Linked DNA regions of Homo sapiens. The protein of the gene in region 2 interacts with the protein of the main gene of each other region in a pairwise test. Each region holds a gene or a part of one and is shown on either strand. Other genes may lie near its edges.

The links.
Region 1: the proteins of PLEKHB2 (region 2) and PSMD14 interact in a two-hybrid assay, tested with the Homo sapiens proteins (one large-scale study listed by IntAct).
Region 3: the proteins of PLEKHB2 (region 2) and FAM168A interact in binary tests that used the Homo sapiens proteins (3 or more experiments, as listed by UniProt).

What each region holds. Positions count from the first base shown.
Region 1 is NC_000002.12:161,391,871-161,395,525, forward strand, and holds part of PSMD14 (26S proteasome non-ATPase regulatory subunit 14), read left to right. Parts: intron 1-3,207; coding exon 3,208-3,333; intron 3,334-3,655. UniProt on the Homo sapiens protein: Component of the 26S proteasome, a multiprotein complex involved in the ATP-dependent degradation of ubiquitinated proteins.
Region 2 is NC_000002.12:131,132,702-131,136,356, reverse strand, and holds part of PLEKHB2 (pleckstrin homology domain-containing family B member 2), read right to left. Parts: intron 3,456-3,655; coding exon 3,366-3,455; coding exon of another isoform or gene 3,342-3,365; intron 1-3,341. UniProt on the Homo sapiens protein: Involved in retrograde transport of recycling endosomes.
Region 3 is NC_000011.10:73,412,984-73,416,638, reverse strand, and holds part of FAM168A (protein FAM168A), read left to right. Parts: intron 1-3,655.

The DNA.
Region 1 (3,655 bases), about 30 Mb from region 2:
TCATTAGCATGAGCCATTGCACCCAGCCTAGTGCTTTTAGAAAACATACCATGTTTACTCTAAAGAAAACTAAGCTGAGTCAAAGGGAAACAGTTTTAGGGTTTTCAGATAATTTGTACTAGATTCTGATCCCATTTTATACCAGTTTTCAAGTTTGATTAGTTTTTAACATTACCTGACGTTTTGATGAATTAGCATTCTCATTTGTTTCTATTTTAGGATTATTTCTAGTACAGTTTTTCTCTCAACTAATGCCAAGTATTTAAATCTGCCTGTTGTTTTTTGATATTACAATCTGAACCAGTTTCCCCCCTTTACTATTACAATTAGTCATCCACCTAATTAGTTTCTTGTATTTCTCTCTGGGAAAGTTAAAAGCATTTTTTAAAAGAACACTGAGTTTACTGTTGATTGATAGCCAGTAAGTTTTGGTTAGTGAGACCGCTGTCAAGTCAGAAAGTGATAAGTAATCAGTAGCAAATAAGATCATTCTATCTAGCCCAAACTGTTTCTCACCAAGGTGTCTTAGAAGGGGATTCTGGTACATGGCAAGTGGCAGATGGAGTGAGTTGGGCTCTCCACGCTTACCCCCTCTTTCAACCAGATCACATCCATTTTTAATCTAATCTATATGCTGGGGGGGAGGATGTGCAATATAAGATTTTCCTTGAAATAAGAATTCTAATTTTGTTTTTTTAAGTTTGATAAACTAGAGTTTTAAAAGGTCAAATCCACTCATAAACTCATCTGAAGGGCCCAGTGCTTGAGCATGTGATGAGTGAGGGGAGTGGGGGACCACTTCCCCCTTGGCGCAAGGGGATCTTATAATGCTCTCTTCTAATTGCCTGCCTGTGTACCACAGTTTACTTCTGCTGTGATAGATTTAGTTGATTAAGTGTATTTTTAACACTTATTTTTAAGTTTACATGGAATGAGTACAGTCTGTGAAAAATGGCACCATTCAGGGACAAACAAAATTCATTCAGAATATAAATATTTTATCAGACTGATATCTGACACCCATCTATTTGGAAATGTCTAGCTAATTACATCAATTTTTCTTTCTTTTTTTTTGGGGAGTATCTCATAAACTTAGCCATTTTCCTTGGCATAAAAAGCAAATATATAAGCACTTACATAAATTACTTAATGTTATGTTTATGTTCTTAATAGCTCAGTTTAGCTGTTAACCTGCCTTCTTGGTAACAAAAGCTCTGCCTTTACTCTTATCCAGACAACTTGTTTACTTAACCCCCAGCCTTACTCGAGGGTCGCAAGGGAATCCTTGTCCAGGTATGATAGGAATATCCTGTTGCTCCTTGGGAACTGTCTTTGTTTGCTTTTGAAGTGGTAGGGAAATCTGAGTCTCAACACTTAATTATAGGTAGCTGTATAGCATAGGTAGTTGTAGCAGCACCCACATTTCCCAAACATGTATTTTCTAGAACAGTATCAGTGGAGAAGCTAGGAAGGAATCAGAGAAACTGAAATCATCTGTGGAGGGTTTTCCTAATTTTTTTTGGCATACTGTCCTTACCCCTGGAGCCATGGGAGAAAATGGGAGAATTAGTGTCCTTGGAGCCAAAGGAAGGGAATGGAGGAGTTTTGTATCTTCAAAAGCCTTATAGGTGATTTTGACAGGCAGCTTATTTTCCAATGTAAGATAAAATTTGTACCACAAATAGCTGTAAACTTCTAAGCAAGTAGGATAATTTTTCTAAACTAAACCCCCATATACCTCCAAGTACATCTTCAGATTCTTATGGCTCAGGGATCTCATTTAAAGTATAATGGTTCTATTGACGAAACAACAGTCATTTTATAGCCATCATTTTTTTTCTTTTACTTTTCACAATTTTGTGAATCATCCAAAGGGAAAAAACTTCTTATTTAATGATGGTCCTCAATTGAAGAAAATTTGTAGGGTAGGACTTTAAGAAAAACCGTCTTAAAATATAAACTTGAAAACTTAGGAACATCTAAGAATAAGTACTCAGAATTGTAAGTCCAATTTGAGAAACATTGAACTAAGGTGTTTAGTTTCATGATCACTGATATAGAATCCAACCCCAATTTGCTGGTGTGATTGCACACTAGATAATTTTTTTTTTTTTTTTTTTTTTGGAGTCTCACTCTGTCACCCAGGCTGGAGTGTAGTGGCGTGACCTCAGCTCACTGCAACCTCCGTCTCCCGGGGTCCAAGTGATTCTTCTGCCTCAGCCTCCCAAGTAGCTGAGATTACAGGCGTCTGCCACCACACCCAGCTAATTTTTGTGTTTTTAGTAGCGACAGGCTTTCACCATTTTAACCAGGCTGGTCTCGAATTCCTGACCTCAACTGATTCACCCTCCTTGGCCTCCCAAAGTGCTGGGATTACAGGCATGAGCCACTGTGCCCGGCCTAGATAAATCTTTTATTTGAGAATAAAAGATTTTCATGGCTTTTCATCCTGACAATAAGGAAGTTTTAAGTTTTTAAATTATAGATGGAATACCAGAATTTGAAGGAAACTTTGAGATTACCTAATACAAGCCCCTTAATTCATAGATCTCTAAACTGAGGATCAGAAAGATTGACACAAGGTCACTCAATAAATGGGGCATTTATCTCGTTATCTTGGCATTTGAAAGCTAGGCTATATGAAAAATTAGAGATACTTATAAATTTCATTAATTCATTCATTCATCAGATATTTATTGAGCTATTATTAGATATTGTTCTAGAATTTAGACCCTAGTGATCTTGAAATGAATAGGGCAAAGTCCCTGCCTTCTTGATTTCCCTTTAGTGGGAGAGAAATGCAGTAAACAAGTAAACAAAAATTTCAGGTCTTTGTAAGCATTATACAAGTAATACAGCAGGTTAAGGGAAGAAAGATTTTGTTTAAGGTAGTGTAGTGTGACTATTTTAGGTATATTGTTGTTAGGGAAGACATCTATCTGTAAGGAAGAGAGGAAGGTAAGTTATGCAAAGATGAGAATAGCCTTCTAGGTAGAAGGACAGCAAATGCAAAGGCCTTGGTGTTGGAGTACTCCTTAAGTTATATTAATACAAATATAGGAGCATTCTAATTGGAGTTCATTTGAATTAATAAAGTTAAATCCATTAAGTCGAAATGTTTTTTTTTTTTTGAAGTTTTTTTTCTCTAGACAATGAAGGGGGTATCCTCAAGGCAGAAAAAGAATTACTTTTTCTTTTATTTTTTAGATGTTGCTAAATTTGCATAAGAAGAGTTGGATGGAAGGTTTGACACTTCAGGACTACAGTGAACATTGTAAACACAATGAATCAGTGGTAAAAGAGATGTTGGAATTAGCCAAGAATTACAATAAGGTAAAAGTTACTTCTGCCATTTCTTCTTTATAATCTTTGGAATATGTATGATTAGATGCCAAGCATTGTGTAAGTAATTAAAAATAGAGAATCCTGTTTTGTAAATAAAATAGTAAATATTTGCTTTGCAGTTCATCTGGTCTGCAACTACTCACCCTTGCCTTTGTAATGCAAAGGCAGCCATACACAATATGTAAAAGAATGAATGTGTTTGGGATCTATTAAAACAAGCAGCTAGCCAGATTTGTCCCATGGGCTATAGTTTGCCAACTCCTGTTGTAGACCATGTAATACAGTTGCACATTTGAAATCTCTTCATTAT
Region 2 (3,655 bases):
GCTCAGGAGGCTGAGGCAAGAGGATTGCCTCAGCCCAGGAATTCCAGGCTGAAGTGAGCTAATGATAGTACCACTGCACTCCATCCTGGGCAAGAGAGTGAGACCTCATCTCTCAGGGGGTCAGGGGAGAGAGGAGAGGAGAGGAGGAGAGGGGACGGGCGGGGGAAAGGAGAGAGGGAGGGAGGGAGGGAGGGAGGAGGCAGGAAGACAGGCAGGCAAGCAACTGACAACCAGTCATGATAAACACTCCTGGAAACTAGAAAAAGGGAATTTCTAAACCTGATAAAGAATAAATATAAAAAACCTCCAGCTAACAGCATACTTAATGAATGCATTAAATACTAAATATATGCATATGTAAAACTAAATACTGAATTCAGTACTAATTAAATACTGAATTAAACAGTACATTCATAATAAATGAATGCATACTTAAAACTGAATACACTGGCCGGGCGCGGTGGCTCACGCCTGTATTCCTAGCACTCTGGTAGGCCAAGGTGGGTGGATCACAAGGTCAGGAGATCGAGACCATCCTGGCTAACATGGTGAAACCCCGTCTCTACTAAAAATAAAAAAAATAAAAAAATTAGCCGGGCATGGTGGCAGGTGCCTGTAGTCACAACTACTAGAGAGGCTGAGGCAGAATGGTGTGAACCCGGGAGGCGGAGCTTGCAGTGAGCCGAGATCTCGCCACTGCACTCCAGAGCCTGGGTGACAGAGCGAGACTCCATCTCAAAAAAAAACACTGAATACATCCCCCCTAAAATCAGGAACAAGGCAAGGATGTCTTCTCTCACTACTGCTATTCTACATAATATTTGAAGGTCTAACCAAGGCAACAAGGCAAGGTAAGGAAACAGAAGGCATAAAGGTTACAAAGAAAACAGATTCCTATTTGTAGATGACATGATTGCCTATGTAGTATATCCCAAAGAATCTACAGAAAAAGGAAATAGAGTAAGTGAGCTTAGAAAGTTTACAGGCGCCGACCAGGCACCATGGCTCATGCCTGTAATCCCAGCACTTTGAAGGCCAAGGCAGGTGGATCACCTGTGGTCAGGAGTTTGAAACTAGCCTGGCCATCATGGTGAAACCCCATCTCTACTAAAAATACAAAAAATTAGTGTGGTGGCACGTGCCTGTAATCCCGGCTACTCAGGAGGCTGAGGCAGGAGAATCGCTTGAACCCAGGAGGCGGAGGGTGCAGTCAGCCAAGATCGCGCCACTGCACTCCAGCCTGGGCAATAAGAGAGACACTCTGTCTCAAAAAAAAAAGAGAAAGTTTACAAGCTGCAAGATCAACCTACAAAAATCAATTCTATTTCTCTATACTGGCAGTAAACAAAGGAAACTAAAACTAAAAATGTAATACCATATGCAATCACTAAAAAAACTGAAACACTTATAAATCTAACAAAACATGTATGGGATTTTTATACTGAAAACCTCAAAATGCTGATGAAAAAAATCAAAGAGGATCTAAATACACATGCAGTCCATGTTTATAACTGGAAGATTCAACATTCAATAAAGATGTCATTACTCTCCAAATAAATATGACACAGGTTTAAGGCAATTCCTGCAAAAGCCTTGCAAGATTTCATTGTAGATATAAACAAATTTATTCTAATGTATATGGAAAGCTAATGGAACCAGAATAGCTAAAACATTTCCAAAAAGGAACAAAGAGGGTGTTGATCAGTCCACCCAGTTCCAAGACTTTTTATAATAGCTGCAATAATTAAGACTGTGTGGGATCAAAGGAAGGTAACAATACAGAACAATGGAGCAGACCACAGACCTCAGAAAGAGATACACTCAACAGAGCCCTGAAAAAGACATCTATCTTATAAAAAATTAATTCAAAATTAATACAGAATAATTATAAAACCTCACTATAAAACTTTCAGAAAATAATGTAGGAGAAAATCTTAGGAAACTTGGGCTAGGTTTGTCATGTTAAGTTTTAACCTGACAGCAAAAGCACAACCGAGAAAAGGAAAAGCCAATAAATCAGCTCATGCCTGTAATCCTAGCTCTTTGGGAAGCTGAGGCAGGAGAACCGCTTGAACCCGGGAGGTGGAGGTTGTGGTGAGCCGAGATCGTGCCACTGCACTCCAGTATAGGCAACAAAAGCGAAACTCCATCTCAAAAGGGCCGGGTGCAGTGGCTGACACCTGTAATCCCAGCACTTTGGGAGGCCGAGGTGGGCGGATCATGAGGTCAGGAGATTGAGACCATCCTGGCTAACACAGTGAAACCCCGTCTCTACTAAAAATACAAAAAATTAGCCGGGCGTGGTGGCGGGCGCCTGTAGTCCCAGCTACTCGGGAGGCTGAGGCAGGAGAATGCCGAGAACCCAGGAGGCGGAGCTTTTAGTGAGCCGAGATCGAGCCACTGCACTCCAGCCTGGGCGATAGAGCAAGACTCCATCCCAAAAAAAAAAAAAAAACCACTCAGCAATAAAAAGGATTATTGACAAAGAGCAACTTGGACAGATCTCAAGGGCAAATACTGAGTGAAAAACGTTAAACTCCCAAGACCACGTGCTATATGATTTCATTTATATGACATTGTTGAAATGATAAAACTATAGAGCTGGAGAACAGTTCAGTGATTGACAGGGTTTAGGGAAGCAGAGGGATGGCATGACTATTAAAGGGTGTCACAGCAGGAAGATTTTGTGAAGAATTCTTTATCTTGATTGAGGTGGTAGCTACACAATCTACACGTATGAGAAAATGACACAGGATTACTCTTAAATACCACACCAATTCCAAATTCCTGGGTTTAATTTGATCGAATATTAACAAATGGGGAAAACACATAAAAAGCACATGAGACTCTCAAAGCTATCTTTGCAACTTCTTGTGAATCTATAATTATTTCAAAATTCAATTTTTTTAAAAGCTGCGTGTTCCACACAACAGACTTACATACGTTCCACTAGCTCAGTCAGCACCCCAACAAGAGGACATCCCAATGTATTTGACATGATTTTTTAAGGTTATTTTCCCTAAAATATAGCATTTTTTTCTGACTATAAGGAGAATTCAAATAATTCATTCCATATAAACTACAGATCATCAAAATCTCATTACCCAAGGCAACTATCATTAACATGATGCATTTTTAGATCTATCTTAAAAACGTGTTACACATTAATACAGCACATTATAATGTGCTGAACTATATAAAATAGTTGCTTCATTTCATGAAAACAAACGTTGATAAGAAATCATCTGTTTTAAGAAGAAAAGGTTTAGAGTACATTTCTAATTTCATTTAAAAAAACAAAACAAAGCAGGACAGCAGCAGAGACCCCAAACTTCCCTCACCTGGAGGCTCAGGGTTCTCCCTACCTCAGGGGCCGGTGCAGCATAGGCCGTGTATGGTGGAGGTGAGGAAACCACGGATGTCTCATCGGTCATGACTGCAGAGCCCACATACGCCTGCGGGAGACAGGAGAGGGTGAGGACAGGACAGCTTCCCAGCAGCTGTGTGCTCGATGCTGTGCATTGTCCCTTTTATTTAGCAAATTAAAAATTTAAAAAAACAAAAAGATACATAGCTCTCTGCAAAACAGGAAAAACTCCCCCAGTCCAGTGGGGGCCCCCACCCCTATTCTGGTATCCTCTAAATGCAAGAGCAA
Region 3 (3,655 bases), on a different chromosome or scaffold from region 2:
GTTGACTGGCCCTCCCATACTCAAAAAGATTCCTCCCAGCATTCAGATTTTGTGGCTTCTAGTACCACAGAAAATTCAGGGCACTTTGACAAATTCAGTTCAATTTCACTGATACTTGCTAAGCCTGTTTGTAATTAGGTCTCCTGCTGATTCATCACTGTCTCACTTGGCTACCAACAAGGAGTCTTAGGGGTCAAAGCAAGATTCAGACATAGAGCTTTATTTTGTCCAGACATATAAATCTGATGATCAATAAACCAATTAGTCTAAAAGGCATCCGTGATGCAAGGATCAAGCCTTTGAAGGTGGTAGGGCTTCTACAACTGAAAAAGATTTATGACAGTGAAAAAGGATTGCAGAAAGCGCTGAAAAGGTTTTATCTTGTTAATGTACATACTCTTTTTATTATCCCATTTGATTCTAAAATTATGGTTAGGAACCTAAGAGAAAGAATAGGACATCATAAACAAAGCCTCTTTTATAAGGCAGAGCTGGGACTTCGAGTGATCTAATTCATTTTTTCTTTCATGATATTGCCTTTAGTGAAATGGGGACAACAAAGGCCAGTATATTAAATGCCCAAGATTGGACTACAGAGACTTTAACTCAGCAAGAGCTCTGCCTAGGGCAGGGTGAGCCCTGAACTTTGGGCCTAGCTGTGTACTGATGTGCTGTACAATTTGGGGAAAATCTGTCCTTCTGGGCTCCAGGTTCTTTCTCGGAAAAGGAGGAGGTTGAATATAAACCTCTAATGTCCTTCAGGCACAACATTCCAAAGTCTTAATTCTGTGACCTTCAGACTTAGAATTCCTTTCAGGATAGCCAGGCCTCCAGTGAGTGAACTGAGTCTAAGTTCATTTGGGCAAAATCTGTGAGACTTTTTTGCAACAAGCCCAACAGCTTCTTTTACTTAGATGCATAAAGTAATAAACCCTGATTTTTGTGTCACCCAAGCTCAGGCTATAGCTCCAGGGGAATTTTCAGTGTTCCTCAAGAGTATTGACAGGACCACTAGTAAATTATGGAAAGTCCTCTGAAATGATTTCCTCATGAAAGTCTTCTGAAATACTCAGAGACCTAGAATGTCAGCACTAGAGAAGTTCTCTGATACTGTCTAGTCCAAATGAGGATATTCCCTGAGAGGAATTGACCTGACTTACTGACAGAACCTAGGATGAGGGCCCCCAGGCAGTTTCTCCAGCCTCATGAAGATCCTCCTGACAAATGGTAACCTTGAGAACCACTGTGGTTAGAGGAAGTAGCACTGAGTCTTAGATCCCCACAAACAGCTCTCTCTTTCAGCAACTACTCATTATCTCATCTGTGAAATGTTTACGTTGGTCTTAATGATCTCTGAGTCTTCTAGCTCTGCAGTTCTGCTTCTATCTCAGACTGTCTGGACAAACAAGCAAGGCCTTCTTCTGCAGCATCATCTCTTTGGCTGCCAAGGGTGTTTTGGCTACTGATTTGTATTCTGAGTATGTGTGTGTCTCATTTCATAACATGAAGAAAGGGAAACATTCTCAGACAAGGTTATTCTTAGATGTGGGAACCAAATTCTACTGCAGTCTCTTGGAGCTTTTTGATTTTCCTCAGAGGGATAGTCTCACCACTTTGTAATATGGCTGTCCTTGTGGCATACAGTGGGTAATCCAGCTTCCCCAGGGAAGAGAAAAATTCCAGAGCACATTCTCCAGGAGCATAAAGGAAAGTCATCAGCATCTTTGGCCTGTTAACTTTAAAGAATCATAAAATCATGGCATTTTAAGCCATAACATTTTAGAATCTTAGAATCCTGGAGTCTGTGTTCCAAGCTGGGACAGACCATAGTAGTCATAGATTAGCTTTAGTCTCTCAGACCAGGCTCTGCCTGCATACCCTTAGGACAGAAGCTTACTGTCCCTATAAAGTGAGAGAGAAAATAATAATAGCTGATCTTTATAAAGTGCTTCTAATATGTCAGGTACTGTTCTAAGTGCTTTTTACTTAACAGTTAATGTATTTATCACAATGAAGTAGGTACCATTACTGTTCCCATATCACACGCGAGACTGATGTATCCTATAGCTATTAAGTCTCAGAGCTGGGGGTTTGGACCCAGGCAGTCAGTCTGTCTCCAGACTGCTCATAACCATGGCTCTGTGCTACAGAGCTTTCAGAAACAGGCACCTTCTGATTCAGGGGTGTCCTACTCTCCTGCATAGAAAAGGGATGCTTTCAGCTCTGCTAGGTTTCTCTACACCTTGATATATTCCTTTAAATTAGGGGTCAGCAAACATTCCTGTAAAGGGCCAAATATTTAGGCTTTTAAAAAGGCCATATGCTCTCTGTCAGTGACTACCATTGTAGCAGGAAAGTAGCCTTAGTCAATATGTAAATGAATGGATGTGGATGTGTTACAATATAACTTTGTTTACCAAAACTAGCTTCAATTACAAAAAACATGGCTGAAATTTAATTGTTTTAAATGTTTATAGTATGAATAAAAGATTCTGTGGTAAAATTAATTTGGAAAATACAGTCTTGTACATACTCCCATCTTAGAGATTCACAGTTCACCTCCCCACCTTCTTTAAGAGACAGGGTCCTGCTCTGTCACCCAGGCTGAAGTACAGTGTTGTGATCATGGCTCACAACAGCCTTAGACTCCTGGGCTCAAGCCATCCTCATGCCTCAGCCTCCCAAGTAGCTGGGGACTACACCAGCCACCATGCCTGGCTAAGTTTTTTTCTTTTTTTAGAGATGTAGTCTGTCTGTGTTACCCAGGCTGGTGTTAAACTCCTGGTCTCAAGTGCTTCTCCTGCCTTGGCCTCCCAAAGTGCTGGGATTATAGGTGAGAGCCATCACATCCAGCCCATCCTATTGTTTTAAAAACTTCTCAGGGTCATGGAATAAAAACAAAATCTTAACTGTTTATCTCTATTTTACATATGGGACTATAGAACTCTTTTGTTTCCTTTTCTTTGGCAAAAACAACTATTAAGATCCCTTGGGATCTATAGTACGTTGTCCACATTTGGGAAATGTCTATCTCTGGTTTATCTATAAAACCCCTTTATTTTATAGATAAGTAAATTGTGTCTCCGTACACATCAGATGGTTCCTTCTAGACATCTGCAAAGCTAGTCTCCCTGTCTTCCCCCACAGTATCTGCTTCTCCTCCTATGACCACATTTCATCATTAGCTCCATAATCTAGAAACTTTGAGAAATCTGCTCTAGACTTCTCACTCAGCTCATAGTTGCACTTCCAGTTAGTTTCTACTTCTCTTTAACATGCTTCCCTCTCTTTCATATGTACTTTCCATTCTATCCTCATTGTTACTTATTTCCCAAGCATATTTGATCACAAAACTATGGAAAAAACTATGGATCTGCAGGTGAAAAAATAAATGACGTGAATCCAGGAACAGGCTGACTTTTGTGGCAGCTGTGCAGCAGCTCTCCTATCCTCCTGAGTCATCAGGGGCAGGGGGGTGCTAAGCCAAAGAGGTGTGATGTGGACTGAGAAAGATTTGTGACCATGTGGTAGTTTGCTTTTACTTGGGGTTAAGGTAGAAGAGACCCAGGATCTTTAGAACCATGGAATTTTTGTTTAGGAAGAGATCTTCATTCTTAGCCACCTGATTTTACAAAATAAGAAACTAAGGCCCAAA